Linked DNA regions of Homo sapiens. The protein of the gene in region 3 purifies or fractionates together with the protein of the main gene of each other region. This does not show direct contact. Each region holds a gene or a part of one and is shown on either strand. Other genes may lie near its edges.

Evidence for each region.
Region 1: the proteins of TMEM184A (region 3) and GPAT4 purify together in Homo sapiens (affinity purification with mass spectrometry; one large-scale study listed by BioGRID and IntAct). This does not show direct contact.
Region 2: the proteins of TMEM184A (region 3) and SLC25A15 purify together in Homo sapiens (affinity purification with mass spectrometry; one large-scale study listed by BioGRID and IntAct). This does not show direct contact.
Region 4: the proteins of TMEM184A (region 3) and VKORC1L1 purify together in Homo sapiens (co-immunoprecipitation; 2 studies listed by BioGRID and IntAct, with this or other methods). This does not show direct contact.
Region 5: the proteins of TMEM184A (region 3) and PDP2 purify together in Homo sapiens (affinity purification with mass spectrometry; 2 studies listed by BioGRID and IntAct, with this or other methods). This does not show direct contact.
Region 6: the proteins of TMEM184A (region 3) and RRM1 purify together in Homo sapiens (affinity purification with mass spectrometry; 2 studies listed by BioGRID and IntAct, with this or other methods). This does not show direct contact.
Region 7: the proteins of TMEM184A (region 3) and ASS1 purify together in Homo sapiens (affinity purification with mass spectrometry; 2 studies listed by BioGRID and IntAct, with this or other methods). This does not show direct contact.

The regions. Positions count from the first base shown.
Region 1 is NC_000008.11:41,581,200-41,584,699, forward strand, and holds part of GPAT4 (glycerol-3-phosphate acyltransferase 4 isoform 1 precursor), read left to right. Parts: intron 1-3,500. UniProt on the Homo sapiens protein: Converts glycerol-3-phosphate to 1-acyl-sn-glycerol-3-phosphate (lysophosphatidic acid or LPA) by incorporating an acyl moiety at the sn-1 position of the glycerol backbone. Active against both saturated and unsaturated long-chain fatty acyl-CoAs.
Region 2 is NC_000013.11:40,788,196-40,792,410, forward strand, and holds the start of SLC25A15 (mitochondrial ornithine transporter 1), read left to right. Parts: upstream 1-1,415; 5' UTR 1,416-1,468; intron 1,469-4,215.
Region 3 is NC_000007.14:1,541,735-1,543,970, reverse strand, and holds the end of TMEM184A (transmembrane protein 184A), read left to right. Parts: 3' UTR 1-1,736; downstream 1,737-2,236. UniProt on the Homo sapiens protein: Acts as a heparin receptor in vascular cells. May be involved in vesicle transport in exocrine cells and Sertoli cells.
Region 4 is NC_000007.14:65,949,574-65,953,073, forward strand, and holds part of VKORC1L1 (vitamin K epoxide reductase complex subunit 1-like protein 1), read left to right. Parts: intron 1-3,500. UniProt on the Homo sapiens protein: Involved in vitamin K metabolism. Can reduce inactive vitamin K 2,3-epoxide to active vitamin K, and may contribute to vitamin K-mediated protection against oxidative stress.
Region 5 is NC_000016.10:66,887,015-66,890,514, reverse strand, and holds part of PDP2 ([Pyruvate dehydrogenase [acetyl-transferring]]-phosphatase 2, mitochondrial precursor), read right to left. Parts: 3' UTR 1-3,500. UniProt on the Homo sapiens protein: Mitochondrial enzyme that catalyzes the dephosphorylation and concomitant reactivation of the alpha subunit of the E1 component of the pyruvate dehydrogenase complex (PDC), thereby stimulating the conversion of pyruvate into acetyl-CoA.
Region 6 is NC_000011.10:4,101,299-4,104,798, forward strand, and holds part of RRM1 (ribonucleoside-diphosphate reductase large subunit), read left to right. Parts: intron 1-694; coding exon 695-783; intron 784-3,500. UniProt on the Homo sapiens protein: Provides the precursors necessary for DNA synthesis. Catalyzes the biosynthesis of deoxyribonucleotides from the corresponding ribonucleotides.
Region 7 is NC_000009.12:130,451,461-130,454,960, reverse strand, and holds part of ASS1 (argininosuccinate synthase), read right to left. Parts: intron 2,738-3,500; 5' UTR 2,733-2,737; coding exon 2,628-2,732; intron 657-2,627; coding exon 588-656; intron 1-587. UniProt on the Homo sapiens protein: One of the enzymes of the urea cycle, the metabolic pathway transforming neurotoxic amonia produced by protein catabolism into inocuous urea in the liver of ureotelic animals.

The DNA.
Region 1 (3,500 bases), on a different chromosome or scaffold from region 3:
TTAGAGTTAGAAGGAGTCTTCCAAGTGCTTAGAGTTTCCCCTGAGTCCTTTAATGTACTTTTTCACCTTTAAAACACATGCAGACACGTACACATGCCACACAAACACAGAGTCTCATCTAGGGCTCTCTTCATTTTGCCTTGTACAATCTTAGTATGTTTGGATCCCACCTCCAGTTAATTTGTAAACCGAAGATCTGCAATAATAGAAAAATGCTTTGTAAAACAGGAGCGTAATACATTTGCACTTGACTTTTATTTATTTATTTTATAGAGATGGTCTTGATCTGTGGCTCAGGCTGGAGTGCAGTGGCATGATCAAGGCTCACTGCACCCTCAGCCTCCCTGGCTCAAACGGTCCTCCCGCCTCAGCCTCCCAAAGGGTCGGAATTACAGACATGAGCCACCATGCCAGGCCTTTGTTGACTTTTTTTTTTTTTTTTTTTTTGAGACAGAGTCTTGCTCTGTCGCCCAGGCTGGAGTGCAGTGGCGCAATCTCGGCTCACTGCAAGCTCCGCCTCCCGGGTTCACACCATTCTCCTGCCTTAGCCTCCTCAGTAGCTGGGATTACAGGCGCCTGCCACCACGCCCGGCTAATTTTTTTTTTGTATTTTTTAGTAGAGACAGGGTTTCACCGTGTTAGCCAGGATGGTCTCGATCTCCTGACCTCGTGATCCCCCCGCCTCGGCCTCCCAAAGTGCTGGGATTACAGGCGTGAGCCATCGCACCCGGCCGACTTGTTTGAATTAAAAAAAAAAAATGATCAGGAAGCTTAAATCAAGGGAAGTTCAATGATTTTTTTTTTTTTTTTTTTTTTTTTTTTTTTTGGAGACTGAGTCTTCCTCTGTCGCCCAGGCCTGAGTGCGGTGGCGAGATCTCGGCTCTCTGCAACCCTCCACCTCCTGAGCTCAAATGATTTCCCTATCTCCCAAGTAGCTGGGATTACAGGCATGCGCCACCACGCCCAGTTAATTTTTGTATTTTTAGTAGAGATGGGATTTCACCATGTTGGCCAGGCTGGTCTCGAACTCCTGACCTCAGGTGATCCACCCACCTCAGCCTCCCAAAGTGCTGGGATTACAGGCGTGAGACACTGCACGTGGCCGAAGCTGAATGATGTATTCAGGGACACATAGACTAGACAGTAAGAGTTGCACCTAGAACCTAAAGGCAGTCCTGGTTCCAGATCTAAGCCCTTTCTGCTGTACCATTTTCTTCACCTTGGAGAAATAGGGTGGGAAAGTATACACACACACACACACACACACACACACACACATCTTTCTTTCTTTCTTTGCCAGTTGAAGATACATTATTTTGAGTCTCCTTTAAAAATTTTTGATCAGTGCTGTCCCATAGAAATATTATATATGCTATATACACAATTTTAAATTTTATAATAATGCTTTTTTAAAAAGCACAAAGAAATAGATAAGGTTGATTTAATCATTCCACAAGGGGAGGGAGAGAGAGAGAGTGTGTGTGTGTGTGTGTGTGGGTGTATCTCAAAACATCACATTGTGCTCCATACATATGTAAAATTATGTATCAATTTTTAAGAAATTGACAAACAGTAATTTTACGTATTTATAGTGTACAGTAATATTTGCCCACATGGATAGAATGTGTAATGATAAAATCAGAGTATTTAGGATATCCAGCACCTGAAACATACATCATTTCTTTGTGTTGGGAACATTTCAAATCTACTTAACATTTCAAATTAAAATATACAAGAAATTGGCCTGACGTGGTGGCTCATGCCTGTAACCCTAGCACTTTGGGAGGCCAAAGTGGGTAGATCACTTGAGGTCAGGAGTTTGAAATCAGCCTGGCCAACATGATGAAACCCCTTCTCCACTAAAAATACAAAAAAAACTAGCCGGCTGTGGTGGCCTGTGCCTGTAATCCCAGGTATGAGGGAGGCTGAGGCACGAGAATTGCTTGAACCTGGAGGCAAAGGATGCAGTGAGCAGAGATCGCACCACTGCACTCCAGCCTGGGCCACAAAATGAGACTGTCTCAAAAAAAAAATAATATATATATATGTACAAGAAATTGGTAACTATAGTCATCCTACTTTGCTATTGAATACTGGAACTCATTCGTTCCATTTAAGTTTTTTTTTTCTATCCATTAACCAAGCTCTCAACGTCCACCCTTCCCAGCTGCTGGTATCTATTATATTCTACTGTCTATGAGATCATTTTTAGCTCCTATATATTGACTTTGATTTGAAAGTCAATTTAAATTTTTTTAAAAAAATTGTATAAAGTAGAAACAGGTGAAAATAATTTTAACAATATATTTTATTTAACCTAGTTTATCCAGAATATTACTTTGAAACATAATCAATATAAAAATTATTAATGGGATATTTTACATGCATTTTTTTCATGCTAAGTCATTGAACTCCAGTGTGCATTTTACATTCACAACACATTTTAAGTGCTCCAAGGTCACACGTGGTTAGTGGCTGCTCTGTTGGACTGCAGAGAATCACTGTCAGTGGAACATAAAGATGAAGGAATGTTTTATTTTGCTTAGTAATGTTCAGGTCTGAGGTTAGAGTTTGTGGTTGTGGTCATTGGTTTTTTCTTTCATGTTTTAGTGATTTTCTTTGCACAATTAGAAGTATTTTGAATTTGCAGAGAGATGAACAAAAAAGTCTGCTGTCACGAATTTGTGCGCTTGTGATGAAAAGGTTTCATTTTTTAAGACAGGGTCTTGCTCTGTTGCTCAGGCTGGAGTGCAGTGGCACTGTCATGGCTCACTGCAGCCTCAGCCGACTGGACTCAGGTGATCCTCCCACCTAAGCCTCCCAAATAGCTGGGATTACAGGAATGCACCACCACGCCCAGCTAATTTGTGTATTTTTAGTAGAAATGGGGTCTCTCCTTGTTGTCCAGGCTGTTGTTGAACTCCTGTCCTCAAGTGATCCGCCCACCTCGGCCTCCCAGAATGCTGAAATTACAGGTGTGAGCCACTGCGCCTGGCCAGTGATGTGTGTAAATTTAAAAGACTGTATTGGTGAAGATGTGGAACAAGTGAGACTTCCCTACGCTGCTAGTGGGAATACAAAATGGTACAACCCATTTTGGAATTTGTCATTCCACTCCTAGGTATTTACCCAAGAGAAATGAAGTATATGTCCATACAAAGACTTGTAGATAGCAGTTTTATTTGTAATAGCCTCAAACTGGAACAACCTTAGTGTCCATCAGTAGGGGAATGGATGAAGAAACGGGTATATCCATATACTGGAATACAGCTCAGCAATCAAGAGGAATAAACTGTTGACACATGCAGCAACATGGATGGTTCTCAGTATAATTATGCTGAGTGAAGTAAATTGGATAAAAAGATTTTTTGAACAAGAAAAAGGCCAGGAAGTTGCTTCTAATTACATATGCAGTACTCAGATTTCAAGAACTGGTATTGAAATTGAGCCATCAGAGCAGTGTTCAGGTCGAATAATGAATTGTCTTGGGTCTTAAAGCT
Region 2 (4,215 bases), on a different chromosome or scaffold from region 3:
CACACGTGTAATCCCAGCACTTTGAGAGGCCGAGGCAGGCAGATCACCTGAGGTCAGGAGTTCGAGACCAGCCCGGCCAAGGTGGTGAAACCCTGTCTCTACTAAAAAATACAAAATTAGCTGGGTGTGGTGGCGCATGCCTGTAATCCCAGCTACTTGGGAAGCTAAGGCAGGAGAATCGCTTGAACCCAGGAGGGGGAGGTTGCAGTGAGCTGAGATTGCACCATTGCACTCCAGCTCGGGTGACAGAGTGAGACTCTGTCTCAAAAAAAAAAAGAAAAAAAAAGAAAAAAATAATAATCCAACAGCACATCTAAACAAGGCTTAAAGTTGTAAAATAAAATTACACTGTGTGGAGGGTGTGTGTGTGTGTGTGTGTGTGTGTGTGTGGGTGAGAGAGAGAGAGAGAGAGAGATGAGGTCTCTGTCATCCAGGCTGGAGTGCAACAGTGCCATCATAGCTCACTGCGGCCTCCAATTCCTGGCCTCAAGCGATCCTCCCGCCTTGGCCTCCCAAATAGCTAAGAATAGAGGCATGTGTCACCACACCTTTTTTTTTTTGTCGTTGTTTGTTTGTTTTTATGAAACGGAGTCTCGCTGTGTAGCCCAGGCTGGAGTGTAGTGATGCAATCTTGGCTCACTGCAACCTTCACCTCCCAGATTCAAGCGATTCTCCTGCCTCAGCCTCCCTAGTAGCTGGGGTTACAGACACGCACCACCACGCTGGATAAATTTTTGTAATTTTAGTACACGGGGTTTCACCATGTTGGCCAGGCTGGTCTTGGACTCCTGACCTCAGGTGATCCGCCTACCTCGGCCTCCCACAGTGCTGGGATTACAGGCGTGAGCCACCATGCCCGGCTAATTCCTGTATTTTCATACTTAGTTGTATTTCCTATTAGGGCCTTGGATCCCGAGTATAATTTTGTACTCAAATATAATTTATAAATAAGGCCTTAGCCTCCCAACAAGGTCAAAGTAGCTAAAAAGTAAGTCCTCCCAACCACTGACATTACCAGCCCCCAGCCCCCAGTCCCAGCCCAGCGGGCTAACAAGGGTCCGGCCTCAGAGAGGGTCTCGGGGATCCCAGAGGTGGGAAAGTCTCCGGAGGCGCAGGCCCCGCTCTCCACCTTCACCAGGGTCGGCGGCAGCACCACGCCGGGTCGCGGGCTGGCTGTGCGCGCCGCGGCCCCACGCCCACTTCCGCTTCCCGTGCTGGGGGCGGTGGCAGGGCCGGTGGGCGGTGGCGGCTCCCGGTCTCGGCTCGGGCACGGCCCTGGGCAGGCCGCCCGCCAGCCGCAGGGGCGCTCCTGAGCTTCGCGGGGCCGCAGTCCGGGATGCCTGCGCGAAGGGAGGGGCGAAGGGCCGGCCGTTGCCGACGTGGGTGTTAAGTGGCCGCCCCAGCCGGCGACCCGGAGCCGAGAGCGGGCGGCGGAGCCTGAGCTGGACGCGGCCACGCCGGCGCGGCGGTGAGCGCAGCCCGGTCTGGCGCCTGCAGCTGCGGGGAGCGCGCCAGGCAGAGGGAGCGGGGAGCGGGGCGCGGGGCGGGCCTCGGTGTGCGGGCGGCGTGACCTTCCCGAGCGGCGGGGGAAGCGGCCAGCGTCGCAGCGCACGTGCCGCGGGACTCGGAGAATCTCGGGGTTGTCGGCCTCCTTCCTGCAGTGCCCACCTGGTGGGAACTTTTGTCCTTGTTTGCCCCCAAGTCCTGTCATTTGGCTGCGGGGCTCCGCGCCTCAGGGGCGCCAGTGCTGGGCAGCATGGAGCCGCTTGTGAATGGAGACTTGCTGGCTGCCCAGGAGTGGGCGGCTGGGCAGGGGCGGTGAACGTTTAGGGTCCGGCCAAGAAAGTTGGAAGTCGTCTCCCTGACCTGTTCCTTGCGAGGCCCGGGAGGAGACGCGCCTGGCCGGTCCTTGGCGGCGAAACTGATTTGCATCTCCACGCTTTACCTAAAGCCCGGGCTCTGGGGACTGGATGGCGAGCTGGCCTGCGGCTCCTTTAGCCAGAAGCTGGGATCTTCCCGCAGCAGTTCGTGTTCCCTGGTGGAAAATGCAGCCTCATCTACTGACTCTCCCTTCCAAAAAAAAGTTATTTTCCCCAAGGGTCGAGAAAAGTGGGTGGTCGGCACTGTTGTTCCTCAGTTGCACCCTGGTGTAATTTGAGAGAGGGGTCAAAGGCGCTGAAAAGATTCTTTTTTCTATTCCAAGTGCTACAGCAAGCTCATAAATCAATTTTAATTCATGCTGAACAGTCTTGCCTCCTCCAAGCCCTGTGTCTTCTCCAAGCCAGAGCTACACATAATGTGAATTAGCTGCCCACTCCTTCTGAGTGAATCTGTTAGTACCCATCATCGTTTTCTATCCTAATAATTCTAATGGCTATTTGTAGAATTTATTTGTTTGTTTATTTTTTTGAGACGGAGTTTCGCTCTTGTTGCCCAGGCTGGAGTGCAATGGGGCGATCTCGGCTCACCGCAACCTCCGCCTCCTGGGTTCAAGCTATTCTCCTCCCTCAGCCTCCCGAGTAGCTGGGATTACAAGCATGGCCCACCACGCCAGGCTAATTTTGTATTTTTAATAGAGACGGGGGTTTCTCATGTTGGTCAGGCTGGTCTCGAACTCCCGACCTCAGGTGATCCGCCCGCCTTGGCCTCCCAAAGTGCTGGGATTACAGGCGTGAGCCACTGTGCCTGGCCTATTTGTAGAATTTAATGTGTTTAAGTTTGGCTCACCTAACAGGGTTTAATTCTTAGGGACAGATAGAATGTAATGTGATGTGACTTTCCTTCAAAATTAAGAAGGAAGTGTCTGTGCCAAAAGAAATAAGCGCATTGAGGTTTATCTAGGAGGCCACATTGTACTTGCCTCTGTCTGTCTGCTCAGTTGCCCCCGTTTTTTTCTTTCCCAAAAATATAGGGTTGGGTGTTTTGTGTTGCCTTTGGCCAGGTTGAAATACTCAGATTAACGGTTGGTTTGTAGGCACAGGCCTGAAAAGACAGGACTTTGAACTGAATCCTCTGTCACTGACAGTTGTGTGGCCTTGGAGAAGACCTTGTCTTGCTCCAGGCTTTAGTTTGCCTTCTGGGAAAGGATTAGGACCCTGATAAACTTTTTATTTATTTATTTATTTATTTATTTATTTATTTTATTTTTTATTTTCTATTATTATTATTATTTTTTTTTTTGAGACAGAGTCTCACTTTGTTGCCCAGGCTGGAGTCCAGTGGCACAATCTCGGCTCACTGCAACCTCCACCTCCCGGGTTCAAGTGAATCTTCTGCCTCAGCCTCCTGAGTAGCTGGGACTACAGGTGTGCATCACCACGCTGGGGTCATTTTTGTATTTTAAGTAGAGACAGGGTTACACCATATTCGTCAAGCTGGTCTCAAACTCCTGACCTCGTGATCCTCCCACCTCAGCCGGCCCAAAGTGCTGGGATTACAGGCGTGAGCCACCGCGCCTGGCCAGGACCCTGATAAACTTTTTTAGGAAGATACCAGATGGCCACCACCTTTTCAGCCTAGTGAATGGTCCTGTCTCTCCAGACCTATCAACAGCATATAAATCAGTGTCTTGCACTTCTAACTTAGTTGCTTTATTAAGTAATGTGCCGTTGTTGCCACTGGTTTTAAATTTTTTGTGAATAAAGGAGGATTATTGAAGTCTCGTCGTTGGCAAGATGCTTCAAGAGGTTTAAACAACTTCTCCACGGCCAATGTTTCCTGTTGACGTTCAGGGTGACATTGGTGTTAGGAGCGTGCTTGGTGTTCATCTCTGATCCAGCACGATGGGTCACACGGCTCCTCAGTGTGATGAGGAATAAGTTGTTCCTTATTATTTGCAAATAAGTTACTAACACCGTTTGAAAACTGTACAGGATTGGTCGTTGAGTTGGATATTTTAGTCAACATTTATTAAGCCCATGCCTCAACAGTAGTTGACTTTTGTCTAAAGAGAGAGAAAGAAATTCTAGTTTTCCCAAATGCCCAAGGCTCCAACCAAAACATACTGAATCCAGATTTCCAGAGGAAAGTCCTGGCAATTTGGATATTTAATAAGTGCTCCAGGTTATCAAGTGGATTTGGACACAACGGCCCAGGTGTTGTATCTCAAAGTGTGAGTCTGTGGACTGGCACTGTCCGCCTCACTTGGGAACTCATCAGAACAGGCAGAACCTCTGGTCCTGTCCAAGGCTACTGAATCAGAGGCCGCATTTTATT
Region 3 (2,236 bases):
TGGCCCCAGGCCACACAGATGCTGCGAGTTGGGATTATGATCGGGTGCAGTGGCTCACACCTGTAATTCCAGCACTTGGGGAGGCCAAGGCGAGTGGATTGCTTGAGCCCAGGAGTCTGAGACCAGCCTGGGCAACATGGTGAAACCCCATCTCTACAAAAAAAAAATACAAAAATTAGCTGGGCGTGGTGGTGCGTGCCGGCGGTCCCAGCTACTCAGGAGGCTGAGATGGGAGGATTGCTTGAGCCTGGGAGGTCGAGGCTGCAGTGAACTGTGATCACGCCCCTGCACTCCAGCTTGGGTGACAAAGCAAGATACTGTCTCAAAAAACTCGAGTTGGGATTTCACCCTGCGTGGTCCAGCACTGAACAGCGTTCACACCTCGGTCAGCTCAGCCCCAAAAACGGGGAAGGCCGGGCGGGGTGGGGACGGCATGCGGGCAGGCCCGTGGCTTTTCGGAGGAGTCCACGGGCTTCCGGCCACTGTGCAGGGGCGCTTTGCTCTCTGCTCCCAGACAGACCCTGTCTTGCTCACAGCTTCCTGCAGGCTCCTCTGAGAGTCCAGCAAAGCTGGGCGAGATGTCTCCCAGGGAAGGGGAACACTGACAGCCGTGCTGCTCTCTGCTCCTTCCACTGGAAGGGAGAGGCTGCATGGACAGGGGGCTCCGGGTGGGGCAGATGGGGACACTCAGGACTGCGGCCTGACCCTCAGAGACTGAGCCCAGGACGTGGTCACCTGACCAGCACCTCCCCCGTGGCTGTCCCAGCCTCACGGTCACGGCCCAGCAGTCCGGGAAAGCCACTTACACGTAGTGCCCGGATCCTGACCCCGGTGAGGGACAGGCAGGGTCCCCTGGGATTGGGGGGGGGGTGTGGTTCTTGGCCCAAGAAAGCCCCAGCTGAAAGCACCAGCTACGCAACGAAAGGGTCTGAAACCAGAAAATTCTTTATTGCAAAGGTACAAAAGCAGTCACAGCAGCAGGACGCACGGCAATAAATTAGGTGGTGGCCGCAGGGACGGGGCAGGGCGGCGGCGGCCAGACACGGGCCCACATGTGATCTGTTTTCAATAATTTATATCATGATAAAAAGCAGCACAAAAAATAAATAATGAAATGGAACTGCCAAGTAGCACAGAAGCCAGGGTGAGGCGGTGTGGCGGCGTGGCGGCATAGGGGGCCGGGGTCCCCACGCCCTGGAAACGCAAAGACCTGGATCTCTTTGGGAAGCCGGAGGCACGGAGACAGAAAACAAACCCACGTGACAAAGAGTCCCTCGTCTTTTTCTTAAATAAAAAAATCCATATATTAAATCATGACAATGAAATTTCAACAATCTGAAAAGAAAAGCAGAACACACCGTGCTTCCCCGGCCCAGCTCTGGGCGGTGACAGCGGCTCCGTCCACCCTGGGGACCAGGGAGTCCCTTCTCCAGCAAAGCACTGCAGGCCAAGGGCAGGTAGAAGCCCACGGCCCACAAGACGTGGACACCAAGAACCCCAAGACGGGACAGAACCGGCCACCCGCTGCGGCCTGTCCTGCGGGGCCCAGCTGCCTGGTACAGTCCGTGGGGAGATGAAGGGGGACGGCGGGCAGCCCGGGCCTCCGCTTTGCTCCCAACTCCCACCTGTGCCCGTGCCCCCGGCTCTGCTCTGATAGATTTACAGTATCAAACTGGAAAAGAAAGATTGTTACGAAAAATCTGTAGATAAACTGTGAATATAATTTTATATCTCTATATATTTTCTGTTTCTCTCTTTAAATATCCCCCTGGTCCTTATGACATCCAATATGGATTACCTACCACGGCCACGGGGGCAACGGCTGTTTGGGAACACGCAGGCCTTTGCTCTGTAGGGACCCAGTGGTCCTGGCGGGCCTGCAGCTTCCCACTCAACTTCTAACAGTAGACACAGAACCAAGTCGCAGCCCCGGGGCTGTCTGTCCTCTGCCCTCCCAGCGTGGCTGGCACCCGCCTGGGCTCTGTAGCTGGTGGGGGCTGTTACTGGGTGGGCAGGGGCAGCCGAGAAGGAGCCAGGGCCCCAGGCACCACCTTGCAGGTCTTATGTGGCGGCCCCCGGCCGGCGGCTCACATTCCGCCAGCTCCCCCAGGCAGGGGCTCCGCAACCCCCGCGGCTCTCGCTGCAGAGACCCCAGTCACAGGAGGGACCCTCAAGGCGGCTCTCCAGGAAAAGGAAGCCCAAGGTGGAGTGCCAAGCCCACTGGTGCCTCAGTGCT
Region 4 (3,500 bases), about 64 Mb from region 3:
GCAGATTACTTGAGCCCAGGAGCAACATGGTGAGACTCTGTCTCTGTAGAAAATACAAAAATTAGCCAGGTGTGGTGGCACACACCTGTAGTCCCAGCTACTTGAAAGGCTGAGGTGAGAGAATCACTTGAGTCCAAGAGATGGAGGTTGCAGGGAGCCGAGATCACACCACTGCACTCCAGCCTGGGGGTCAGAGCAAGACGCTGTCTCAAAAACTAATAATTTAATGTGAACTGTGTTTCAACATAGTGTCGTTTATCCTAAGTGTTATTGTTAACATCTAGGTTTCACTCCTTTTACTTCCAAATAATGCTGCAGTGATCAACTTTGTTTAAAGACCTCCTGCTCCTTCCTTCCTTTGAATTATCTCCACAAAATAAATTTCCAAGCATAGTATCAAAAAACACAGATATTTTCAATTTTAATCAGTGTTACCAATTTGCTTTTCCCTCAGTTCTTTGGTTTCCCTGAAGCTCCAGCGGTCTTTATTTTTAAGACATGCTTTGTAAAATTTCTTTTTTTTTTAATTGTAACGATAATCTTCACCTGGAAAAATTGCTAATAGTTACACATTAGTACCTATTACTTTAATTTTTACTCTTTTTAATTTCCTTTTATTGCCCATTTAGCATTTAGTTATTGGATCCCGATACTAGTACATTTTTATATGTGTTACAAACATTTTATGCATTCTTTATCCTTTTTTGTTAGTGTTATGAATTTGTATTGTATTAAGTTTTTATACTTTTAGAGTTAAATCCATCTGTTGATGCCTTTGCATTTTATTTTTCTTCTTTTTTGTAGATCTTGTTGCATACCAATGCTTTTGTATTTTAATTGTTAATATTCCATTACCTGTCAGCTCTTCTGATTTGGTTCATTAAAAATACATGTAACTCTTCTATCTGAAATTGATTTGTTATGAGGCAAATTATAAATCTAAATCATCCTCAGTAGTTCTGTCGAGTTTGCCCAGTTCCATATCTATGTATTTATCTTGCAGAAGTAGAAAGATGTGTGCACAAGGATATTCATAGCAGTACAGTGTAAAATAGCAAAAAAAAAATGGAGGTAGGTTACAAATAGATAATGGTTGAATAAATTAGAAAATACTATGAAATACTATGTAGCCATTAAAGGAAAAAGGAGATCTATGTTTATATCCTAGAAAGATAAAGACACTATTTAGTGAAAAAAGCAAATTTTGGTATAATAGGTATAGGATAAACGTGTTTGTATACATGCATGTAAATGCATAGAAAAGGGTCGGGTGGTTGGGGAGGAGGGAGAAATTTCACTAGGTATTCTGCATGTTTCCATTTTGCTGGATTTCTAGAGAAGAATATGAAGTATAAGCCCAGATGCAAGATGTTTTCCTTTAAAGGCAAAGAACCTAAGAACAGCCTTTGACTAGATTAACTCTTGAAGATAGAGGTGTGACAGCCAAATTTTTGTTTTACCATTAATTTAATGCCATGGTATATACATATTTTAAATCATATTTATCACATGTGTTTTTTCATTCGCATTTTTTGACTCGCATTTAGATGCTTCACGTGCCTTTTAATGTTGGTGTCTTCATGGGAGGCACATTTGAACTAACCTAGCAATTTCCAGAGCACAGCATCTGTACTCCCTTCTAACCTGTTTGAGACACAGCATTTTTAATTTAATTTTTTCATAGGTAATCCATTCACGTGGTTCAAAAGTTTTTAAAAAGGACCGGGCACAGTGGCTCATGCCAATAATTCCAGCATTTTGGGAGGCCAAGATGGGTGGATCACGAGGTCAGGAGTTCAAGACCAGCCTGGCCAACATGGTGAAACCCCATCTCTACTAAAAATACAAAAATTAGCCAGGTGTGGTGCCGCACACCTGTAATCCCAGCTACTTGGGAGGCTGAGGCAGGAGAATTGTTTGAACCTGGGAGACAGAGGTTGCAGTGAGCTAATGTCGCACCATTGCACTCCAGCCTCGGTGACAGAGCGAGACTCCTTCAGGAAAAAAAAAATATATATATATATACATATATAAAATGTTACACAAAGAAAAATCTATCCCACCCCTTCCCTTTATGCCTGGTTTCCAGTGCTCCTCAGCCCCGACTGGTAGCTTGTTATTGTCTCTTTATGCATATACGAGAAAGTACAAATACACAATCTTAATTTTCCTCCTTTTTAAAATATAAAAGGCAGATGCTATACCCACTGTTCTGCAGCTTGCATTTTCTTTTTTTGCCTGATGAATATATCATGGTGATTTTTCCATATCAGTATATTAAATGTCTTCATTCTTTTCTACAGCTGCAGAATAATCCATTGCATAATTGTACCATCATTTATTTAGAGTTACAGCACATTTTAAATTCCACTGGGAATTTGACCCTGAGCCAAACGTACCTAGCTGCATTACAGTAGCATTTAATGGATATCTGGTATTTATACACTATTCTAAGTGCTTTAATCCTGCATTATCTCAGCTCATTTAATTGCCCAGCAGTCTTAAGAAGTAGGCATGATTGTTATCCCAATTTTACAGTTGAGAAAAGAAAGGCATAGAGGAAGAAATAAGTTGCCCGTATCATTCTGAAGTTAACTTTCTTAGGTAAAATTGTGACCACATTAATTTCGAAATGTTAGTTGTTTAGCATAGGTGAAGTCAGCAAACTTTTTCAGTAAAGGGCCTGGCAGAAAATAGGCTTTGCCAGTTGCCGCAGCCACTCAACTCTTCTAGTATGAAAGCAGTCACAGACATTACGTAATGAATGACATTACATAAATGAATGAGCATGGCTGGGTGCCAATAAAACTTTATTTACAAAAGCAGGTAGCTGGCCAGATTTGCTAGTCCCTGCAACAAGTAATTCAGCAGCACCTTAGTCTTGAAGTGCCCTATGAAAGCATCTAGGCCCGTGGCTGTGCGGCAGCCGGCCCACAGGCGTCTTCTTGTTGCATTTTTTTTTTTGCCAACAGGGCCCAGGATTTCAGCTCTTTAACTGACTTCTTTATACCTGCTCCCACCTGTTATTTTGTTCCTGTTTCTGTTATCCTTATCCATGAGTCATTGGGTAGGAGGGTAGTTTAACATGCTCTGCCTTCTCTGTCCTTGAAAATAAATGCACATATTCTCTATACTGTTGCCTATAAGAAATTAAAAACAATACATGTGAAGATAGAGTCCAGAATTCAGGTGCCTTTTTTTTTCCTTTTTTTTTTTTTTTTTTTTTTTTGAGACAGAGTTAAGACTCTGTCGCCCAGGCTGGAGTCCACTGGTGCAATCTTATCTCACTGCAACCTCCGCCTCCTGGGTTCAAGTAATTCTCGTGCCTCAGCCTCCCTTGTAGCTGGGGTTGCAAGCGTGCAATACCATGCCCAGCTAATTTTTTTTTTCTCTTGTACTTTTTAGTAGAGAGGGGCTTTCACCATGTTGGCCAGGCTGGTCTCAAATTCCTGACCTCAAATGATCTGCCTGCCTTAGCCTCCCAAAGTCCTAGCATTACA
Region 5 (3,500 bases), on a different chromosome or scaffold from region 3:
TGTTTAAAAGATGCCAATTTGATTGTGTCTAAACTGAACTTTACCCAGTGTGCTGAATACTAAAGACCTTTTAGGCCAAAGGAAAAAGATGTTTATATATTAACATACCTCAAAGTTTACATTTTCATTATAATAAATTAGCCTTAATGTTAACAAATAACATCTCAGAAAGCTGAATCTAAGTAGCCTGATCTATCATGCTAATTTGAGTTTGTTTTTTGTTTTTGTTTTTTTGAGATGGAGTTTCGCTCATGTTGCCCAGGCTGGAGTGCAATGGCACAATCTCAGCTCACTGCAACCTCTGCCTTCTGGGTTCAAGGGATTCTCCTGCCTCAGCCTCACAAGTAGCTGGGATTACAGGCATGCGCCACTATTCCAGGCTAATTTTTGTATTTTTAGTAGAGATGGAGTTTTACCATGTTGGTCAGGCTGGTCTCAAACTCCTGACCTCAGGTAATCCACCCACTTTGGCCTCCGAAAGTGCTGGGATCACAGGCATGAGCCACCGTGCACAGCCGACTTTTTTTTTTTTTTTTTTAATTCAAACTTTTTTTTTAGACACAGTCTCACTCTGTCACTCAGTCTGGAGTGCAATGGCACGATCACAGCTCACTCTGGCCTAGACCTCCTGGGCTCAAGAGATCCTCTCATTTCAGCCTTCCAAGCAGCTGAGACTACAGGCATGTGCCACACCTGGCTATTTTTTTTTTTTTTTGTAGAGGCAAGATCTATGTTGCCCAGGCTGGTCTCATACTGTACTCAAGTGAGTCTTCTGTCTTGGAATCCCAAAGTGCTGGGATTACAGGTGTGGGCCACTGTGCCTAGCCACGAATTTGAATTTAGAATACTATCTTATCTATCCATTTTTACCAAGCCCCAGAATCAAGAGAGATGCAGTTATATATTTTTTAAAAATCTGGTGAGGTGTGGTGGCTCATGCCTGTAATGCTAGCACTTTGGGAAGCTGAGGTGGGAGGATCACTTGAGCTCAGGAGTTCGCAGCCTGGCCAACATGGTGAAACTCTGTCTCTACTAAAAATACAAAAAATTAGCGGTGTGTGGTGGTGCATGCCTGTAATCCCAGCTACTCTGTGGCAGAGGCACGAGAGTCACTTCAATCTGGGAGGCAGACGTTGCAGTGAGCTGAGACTGTGTCACTGCACTTCAGCCTGGGCGACTGAGTGAGACTGTCTCAAAAAAAAGAAAGAAAATAAATCTAAATTATGCCAATATTATCAAAGTTTCTTACCTAAAATCATATACAATTTTAAGCACCAAAGCATACTTTCTTCAAAAGTTACATCCAAAATATTAAATGTTCAATCTCATTTTTCAGTTCATTTTAAGTCTCAATACTGAAATCTCCGTATAAAAGGAATAATAAATGCTTTGAAAGACCTGACAATTACCACTAAACTCCTCTCAAATCCCAGTGTCCTGGGGCAGTAGCCCATGTGCTTCAAGAAGTCCAATGACAGCAGGATAGTGGTCAGGGAGACAGGAGTTTAATCAGGAGGTGCTCCCCAGAATGTTCATGGAAAGAACAGATGATTCACAGTGGAAAAAAAGCAAATGATAAATAAGCCTTTCTTCTTTCTCAATATTACTAACTAGAAAGCAGGAAAATCTATTAGGCAGAGAAAAACCAGATATGCCTGGAGATACAGGTAAGGAGTCTGTGTTCTCTCAGCTGTCTCACAGGTTAATGAATCAGATATATTTATGACCCATGCTAGGCTCCAAAGTAAGATTCAGGTACTCTGTATGCCAGTAAAGGCTTCAAGGATACTCCAGGGTTTAGCTAGTATAAAGAATAAAGGACAAAGAAAATGCCAGACAACCAGCCTGAGCAACATAGCAAGATCATGTTTTCACCAAAAAAAGTTTTTTTAATTATCTGGGCCTGATGGTTCATGCCTGTAGACCCAGCTACTTGGGAGGCTAAAAGGGGAGGGAACATTGGAGTCCAGGAGTTTGACAGTGAGTTATAATGATGCCACTGCACTCCAGCATGGGCGACAAAGCAAGACCTTGTCTCAAAAAACAACAAAAAGTAAACGTCAGATAGAATCCTCAATTTTAGCAACAAACCCTCATGCTAGCAGAATGGAAGTGATTTACATTTTATTTTTGATTCAAGATCTAGGAGATAGGCTGGGTGCGGTGGCTCATGCCTATCATCCCAGCACCTTGGGAGGCCGAGGTGGGCAGATTGCTTGAGTCTAGGAGTTTGAGACCAGCCTGGGCAACATGGCAAAACCCTGTCTCTACAAAAAATTAAAAAAATTAGCCAGGCATGGTGGTGCATAGTCCCAGCTACTCGGGAGGCTGAGGCAGGAGGATCGTTTGAGCCTGGGCTGCAGAGGTTGCAGTGAGCCAAGATCATGCCATTGCACTCCAGCCTGGCTACAGGGAGACCCTGTCAAGAAGGAAAGAAAGAAAGAAAGAGAGAGAGAGGAAGGAAGGAAGGAAGGAAGGAAGGAAGGAAGGAAGGAAGGAAGGAAGGAAGGAAGGAAGGAAGGACGGACTAAGAGATAAGATGGATTTTTTTTTTTTTTTTTTGAGACAGAGTTTCACTCTTGTTGCCCAGGCTGGAGTGCAATGGTGCGATCTTGGCTCACCGCAACCTCCGCCTCCCGGGTTCAAGTGATTTTCCTGCCTCAGCCTCCCGAGTAGCTGGGATTACAGGCATGCACCACCACACCTGGCTAATTTTGTATTTTTAGTAGAGATGGAGTTTCTCCATGTTGGTCAGGCTGGTCTCGAATTCCCGACCTCAGGTGATCCATCCGCCTCGGCCTCCCACAGTGCTGGGATTACAGGCGTAAACTACTGCACCCAGCCAAGAAGGAATATTAATGGTTTCAGAATAAAAGGATCAAGGCTTAAATATTCAAAAGATAATTTCTTAGATGAAAACACATGACTAAACAGTTGCACTGAAAAATGTACAAAGAAACACCACCAAATTAGAAGTATCCCAACATTTGACTGAATGTCAGCTGGGACATAGACAAAAAACAGGAAACCAAACCTAGCTATTTGTTTTTCTTTTCAGTAGGTGGCATAAAGGGGTAAGATGAGAAAAGGGATCAACAAATGTAGTTCAACTTAATTGAAGAATTCTGCCTGACGTAGTAGAGGCAAATAAAATTGTTGGTTTTGTGGGATTATATTTGTTTCCATTTAGGGACACATTTCCTGTTGTTTAAATGCCACAGCAACTCATGAGATGAAATTCATCTCCAAAATGGATCCACATAACTGAATTTCCAAGTAAATACAAAGAGTCTACAGCCCACAGAAACCATTACAAATTACACTTTTATTTTTGCCCCAACTCCTATACTAAATATGGTCTAATTCCTGAGGACTAGCAATGGTGGTTTATCCCACAGTCTTGGGGCAAGCGTCCCATCTGATAAGTCTCACTCCTCCCTCCTGCCCACCACCTCTCAGGAAAGGATTCAGAGAAACTTGGTTAGAAACTGTTGTCCTTA
Region 6 (3,500 bases), on a different chromosome or scaffold from region 3:
GTATAGGATTCTGTGGATTTTTTTTTTTTTTTAGTTGGAGTTTCATTCTTGTTGTCCAGGCTGGAATGCAATGGCGTGATCTCAGCTCACTGCAACCTCCGCCTCCTGGGTTCAAACAATTCTCCTGCCTTAGCCTCCCGAATAGCTGGGATTATAGGCCCCTGCCACCATGCCCAGCTAATTTTTTGTATTTTTAGTAGAGACGGGGTTTCACCATATTGATCAGGCTGATCTCGAACTCCTGACCTCCAGTGATCCACACCCCCCCCCGCTCCCTTGGCCTCCCAAAGTGCTGGGATTACAGGTGTGAGCCACTAGGCCTGGCCTGTGGATTGTTATAACAATTTTGACTTTTATTCTGGAGATCATAAGCCACTATTAGGAGTTTTGAAGGAGGTAATGATATGATTCTGAGTTTAACTTTTAAAGGGTAATTTTGGCTGCCATGTGGGATGGGGGAAAAATTTAGGAAATTATCCGTAAACGTCTGTCTGTATAGAATTCATACTCTTTGAAGGTGACATCAGAGAAGACAATCTCTTCATGAATCTTTTGAGGGGGCCTCAATCTTTTCTGTGAAATAGCACTTCATGTTGGTCAATTTACATGTTAATTACATTTGATTCTTTGACATTGTAGTCTTAATAATTGCTAACATGAATTTAATAATTGCTAACATGATTTGATTCTTTAGATGGCCGCCAAGAACGAGTCATGTTTGACAAAATTACATCTCGAATCCAGAAGCTTTGTTATGGACTCAATATGGATTTTGTTGATCCTGTAAGTAAATATGGTTTTTATCTTGGGTTCCTTCTTTCATGTGTTTCTTTCCATTTGTCTCTTATCCCTGGACCTTCATTCACCTGATATACTTTGGTATTCTGGCTATGCCCTTCGATATAAAATTTGAATTCATTGCTTAAAACATTTTTTTTTCCTTAATTTTGGTTCTGTCCTGTGAGTTCTCACTTTTCAGAGAACTATGAATGTGAGTAAAGAGGAAAATTTGATATTAACATTTAATATCAGATATTTCCTTGAGTAAATTGTTTTATTCATTAGTGGAAAAGCCTAGGCCAGGCGCCGTGGCTCACGCCTGTAATCCCAGCACTTTGGGAGGCTGAGGTGGGCAGATCACCTGAGGTCAGGAGTTCAAGACCAGCCTGGCCAACATGGTGAAACCCCGTCTCTACTAAAAATGCAAAAATTAGCCGGGCCTGGTGGTGGGCGCCTGTAATCCCAGCTACTTGGGAGGCAGGAGAATCACTTGAACCTGGGAGGCAGAGGTTGCAGTGAGCCGAGATCGTGCCACTGCACTCCAGCCTGGGCGACAGAGCGAGACTCCCTCTCAAAAAAAAAAAAAAAAGGGAAGCCTAGAGTAAAGCTTGTTTTGGAATTGTGGTTATTTAGGTAGGGACTGGTTTAAAATTTGTTTTTTGTTATTTATGTAAAAAGATTTAAGTAATATAAAGTAGATTTCATGGACAATATTTAAGTCAAGAACAAACTATTCATAAACCAGTTGCTCTGCTTTTCTCCTTATCCTTTATAACTTCTGTATTCTAGACTCTCATCATCAGTTATCTGGACTGTTTTCTGTGGTCTCTGCAGTGTCCTGGACTTCCTCTAATCTTACCCTCTTCAAACTCGTCTTCCACCTGACTTCTAAAATGATCTTCCTTAAATGAGAATCTCTAAGAACTCTTTTTTTCAAATCCACCCATATTTCCGTCTCCTTATTTAGGTATCTTATCCGCACTGCTAAGGTATCTTAGGTATCTTATCCGTAAAACCTGTGCTCATCTCATAGCTTTAATCATATAGTATGGAAATTAATTATGGATCTTTGTCCTCCCCTAGAATTGAGGATGGGCTGTGTATCTTATTCTTGTGATATCCTCAGTGCTTGACATGTATCTAATTAGCCACTTGACCAAAGTAAGTTTGGTCAAGAGAAAATGATTTTATGTATCTTGAAAATATGTTTATTGTAAATTCTCTTTTATATTGAGGACTTAGGCAATAATTAGAATAGTAGAATGTTAGAGTTGGAATGAACTTAAGAGTCCATCCCATTTCATCTTTGGTTTATAGATAAGAAAGTTCCAAAGAGAGAGGGGAGTGACTTAAGTTAGTGGGAGTGTAGGGAGAAGCACCTAGGTCTCTTGACTCCTACATGTTCTATTGCCTCATGCAGTAGTACATTTTAGAGCGCAAGAATGTTGCAGCATCCTCAAACTTCCTAGGGTAGATTCTGTTGAAAAACTGTCGGTGCACATCTGTAATCCCAGCACTTTGGGAGACTGAGGTAGGCAGATTGCTTGGGCTCAGGAGTTTGAGACCAGCCTGGGCAACATGGTGAAACTGCCCAGGTGCAGTGGCTCAATCTTGGCCCACTGCAGCCTCCACCCCTGGGGATCAAATGATTCTTGTGCCTCAGCCTCCCTCAGCTGGGATTACAGGCATGTGCCACCACGCTATTTTTTTTTTTTTTTTTTTGTATTTTTAGTAGAGACAGGGTTTTGCTATGTTGGCCAGGCTCGTCTTGAACTCCTGACCTCAAGTTATCTGTCCGCCTTGGCCTCCCAAAGTGCTGGGATTACAGGTGTGAGCCACACTGTGCCTGCCCTCAACCCTGTTTCTACAAAAAAAAAAAAAAAAAAAAAATTGGTTGGGTGTGGTGGCGCATACCAGTAGTCCCAGCTACTTGGTGGTGGGAGGATCGCTTGAGCCCTGGAGGTTGAGGTTGCTGTGAGCTGAGATTGTGCCACTGTACTCCAGCACAGGCCACAGAATGAGACCCTGTCTCAAAAAGAAAAAAAGAAAAACTGTGTGCTGTTAGATCTGGCACAGTTAGCACACAGATGGTATTTTATTCTGAGTTCTAATTGTTTGCCTTATTGCTCTAGAAACTATTTAGAAGACTTCACTGCTCTTATACTGAACACACCTTATCTGCTGGATCTGGGAAGAAAGTGATCAGGAGCAACTTGGGCTTAGCTATATTATAATTAGAATAGATTGCAGACTGTTAAAATAGTTACACACGTATGTGTCTTTTTTTGAGGGGAGTATGCATTGTTCAGCTGGGAAACACATTTATTTTCTGTTGGATTAAGCGGTTTCTTAAAGATTCAATAAATAAACCACTCACAACTTAGAATTTGTTTTTCTTAAAAATGTATGCTAATACCCTGTGCATTACCTGTCTTAAAAACTGGAACTTATAATGTGGCCTTGAAAACAGTGAAATGCAGTGAGGTTTAATGGGATTGGGGCCAGAAGACTTGTATAATAATATAACCTTGGGCAAGTCTCAGTAACCTGAGCCTCAGGTTCTTCATGTAAAATAGGTATAGTAATAATCATCTCACAAAGTGATTGTGAAATGTCAGAGATTATCAAAGTTGATAATTACTTATCAACTTTGGTTGAGAATCATTTGAACCTCGGGGGCGGAGGTTGCACTTTGTAATTTGTGAAGTGCTAAAGAAAGT
Region 7 (3,500 bases), on a different chromosome or scaffold from region 3:
GATAGATGGATGATGGATGGATGGATGAATGGATGGATGGATAATGGATGGGTGGATGAGTGGATGGGTGATGGATGGATGGGTGGATGGATGATGGATGAATGGATGAATGGATGGATGGATGGATGATGGGTGAATGGATGGGTGGGTGATGGATGGATGGATGGATGGATGATGGGTGAATGGATGGGTGGGTGATGGATGGATGGATGGCTGAATGGATGGATGGATGGATCGATGGATAGCTAATGGAGGGATGAATGATGGATGGATATGTGGACGAGTAGATAAACAGAGATAAAAGAGGGTGAGTGGGTGCATAGATGGACAGAGAGATAAAAGAGAAGGGAAGGTATGTGGGTGGGGAAGAGACACTCCACCTGGATGGGAAGGTGGGTGGGTGGAAGAGGGCGTGGGGGAGGCAGAAAAACAAGAGGGTTCACACACCTGAGAGCAGGATGATCTCATACTCTTAGAAGCAAGAAGACACACTGGAAGGGATGGGATCCCTGGGGCAGGAGCATCCACCACTGCCCTCCACATCACCGCCCCACTCCCAGCCCAAATCCCTGCCTCCCGCCTGGTACCTTTTTGGCCCCAAGCTTCAGTGCCTTCTTCCTGGCTTCCTCGAAGTCTTCCTTCTGGCCAATGTTGGCCTGAGAAGCAGAAGCGGAGAGGCTCCGTCAGCCCCTGGGGGGAGCCCTGAGTTCACACCATCCGCATGCAGCAGCCTCCCACCCCCTGCTACAGAGACAGCTTCCATTCCATGGCCAAGTCACAGTAAGAAGGAAAAAGGACAAAGCCCAAGGCCTGGAGAGGTGAGATTCTTCCAGGAGGTGAGATTGGGAGCTGGATTGTAGCGTGGTGATGGCTGGTGGCTTCCATGGGTTGGAGCATTGGCTGAGCCTGGCCCTGGCCACACAGGCTGCTGGGAGACAACCATCTGCTGTCATTGCTGGAAGGTCTAGGGTTCTCCTGAAACTCATCTGTCTTTTCCAGAAAACTCTTTCTCAGCCAGTGCAAAGATTAGCTTGTCAGGGCCTTCCTAGCCTCCAGCTCTCCTCCCTAGTCAAAGGCCATGCCTTGGCCATCCTGAGGCAGCTGAGAGGCGGGAGGCAGAGAAGCCCGTGCTCAGGAACTTCCAGCTCCGTCCCTGTGGCCAGTGCCCTGACCTCGGGGTCTGACAGCCCCTGTCTAGACACTGCCATGTTTCCTGCTGCCTGGACTCTGGCCTGCTGCCCAGATCCTGGCCTCAGCCCTCACTCCCTTCATTCGGCTCACCAGACCCTGGAATCTTGCCAAAGCCCAGCTGCAGGTGCTTATCTGAATCACATTCAGCTTTTAAATCCCCCAGGTGGTAGCCCAGGGGTCTATACGCCCAGCTCCAGCTCTGATTGCCCCGCTGTGCTACCTACAGTGAGATGGATACACCCTGGGCTCTTTGCAGCCCCTCAAAGCTGTGCTCTCACCCACCAGGTGACTGTGAGCAAAGTATTTCTTCCCCTGGGCCTCACTTTCCCCAACCTGAATGACAAGGGCATTGGGCGCAGTTAGACATGCCAATATGCCGGCAAACAAGCCACTTTTGGCAAGAGCTAAGTTTTGTCTGTCCAGAGACCCAGGCTCACTTCCTCTGGAAACAGAACCTTCTTTCCTGGGTGGACCCCATTCCACAGGGATGGAGAGGAAGAAATCCCGCCCACTGAAGGAGTAGGCTCATGGCCCAAGCCTCGCACCCCATGATGCAGCCATAGGGACTAATGCGTGGTGGGTCCCCATGGGCCCTACTGGGGGTAAGCCCTCCTTTTTGGGAAAGGTGGGCTATGAGGGTGACCATGAGCCTTGCCTGCCCTGTGGAGAGGCCAAGAATGAAGCCAAGTAGAGTTGGAGATAGATCTTAGAAGCACCTGGATCCAGCCCTGCCTGAAGCCATCCTACCCCTGGAGTTCTCAGTTGTGTGAGCCAAGAATTGTCTTTTCCCTTTCCTTTTTGCGTAAGTTGGTTTGAGTTCAGTTTCTAAAATTTGCACCTAAGAGTCCTGAACAGCACAGCCACACAGAGAAGGACTCAGAGCTGTGGCCAGGTTCAGTCGAAGAGGAGCTAGTTTGAGAGGGATGACTCCTATGGGCCCTGGATGAGGAAGTGGCTTCACACATAACCCATCACCTGTGACCTATTTCCCATCCCAGAACCAGGTGATCCCCCAGGGTCCTTCCAGCTCAGGATTCCACAATCTTTGCTGAATTACTGCAGGCTGACAGCATACTCTGGAGATGGGAAGACTGTGTGCCTTCCCAGGGCTGGCAGCAGGTCCCAGCCCATGCCTCTCTGCAAGCAGGCTAAGCCAGCAGCACTGCCAAGTTCACTTCTGTGCCCTCCCCGCGCCTCCATCACCTGGCTCTGGAAGGCATCTCAAGGATGGCCAATTTGCAGATGGAGAAAGTGAGGCAGTACAACGAGAAGCTATTTTCCTAGTTCCAGTTCAAGACAGGCTTCGAGAGAAGAGGCCAGGCTTGAATGAGTGACGGTGAGCAGACAGGCTGACAACCCAGACAGAGGCTGGCAGGGGGCAGACAGGACAGGTTGCAGGACACGCAGGAAGACAGACACCCAGGTCGCTCCCTCACCAGATAGGCAATGACGTCATAGCCTTGTTCCTTCAGCCACACGAGGATGCACGAGGTGTCCAGGCCGCCACTGTAGGCCAGAACCACGGAGCCTTTGCTGGACATAGCGTCTGGCGGGAGTCGAGGAACAACCTGAGTGACCCTGAGACAGCCAGTGCCCCCCGCCAGCCCCTGCAGACAGCCCAGCCCCGACCTTGGCCTTGGACAGCCTTGTCTCCTGGGCAAGCTGCCACTGAAGGTCGGGAACAGGATGTTCACCTTCAGTGCCTGCCACCCCCGGGAACCCTGACCTCGCACACTCTGCACACAGCCCCACAGACCACACTGGGGCCTGGGAATGCTGACTGCAGTCCTAGGCTGGTCGGGGAGAGGCATCTCTTGGACCTGATCCTCCAGCATCGAGGGAAGGCGGCTGAGGCTGAGCAGTTTGGCCCAAGGCCAGGATGTGAGGAATGCACGCAGGCAGGAGATGTGGGAGGGGCCTTGGCTCTGAGCCTCTGGCAGCTGACACATCCCCCATCAGAACTGCTCCTTGCCAAGCACCAGGCAGGGCCCTGGGAGCCTCAGCGGGATCTCCCTGTGCCCCTGAGCCCCCACTACAACCTCATGAAGTAGGAGTTGTCATTCCTATTGGGGAGGCAGCCAGCAGGGCTCAGAGAGGTCAGTGGCAGGCTCAAGGTCACAGAGGGCACAAGAATCTGTGCTTCCCCAGCACGCAGTGCCGCCGCCCACCTGCAGGTGGAGAAGGATGCTGTGGGGCAGGGGCCCAGCCCCAGTCCCTCTCCTACCTGCAACCCCATGGAACCTTCACTGGCTGGAATTTTAGACATCGTGTCTCCAAATGTGAGCGCCTCTGAATTCAACTCTGCCAAT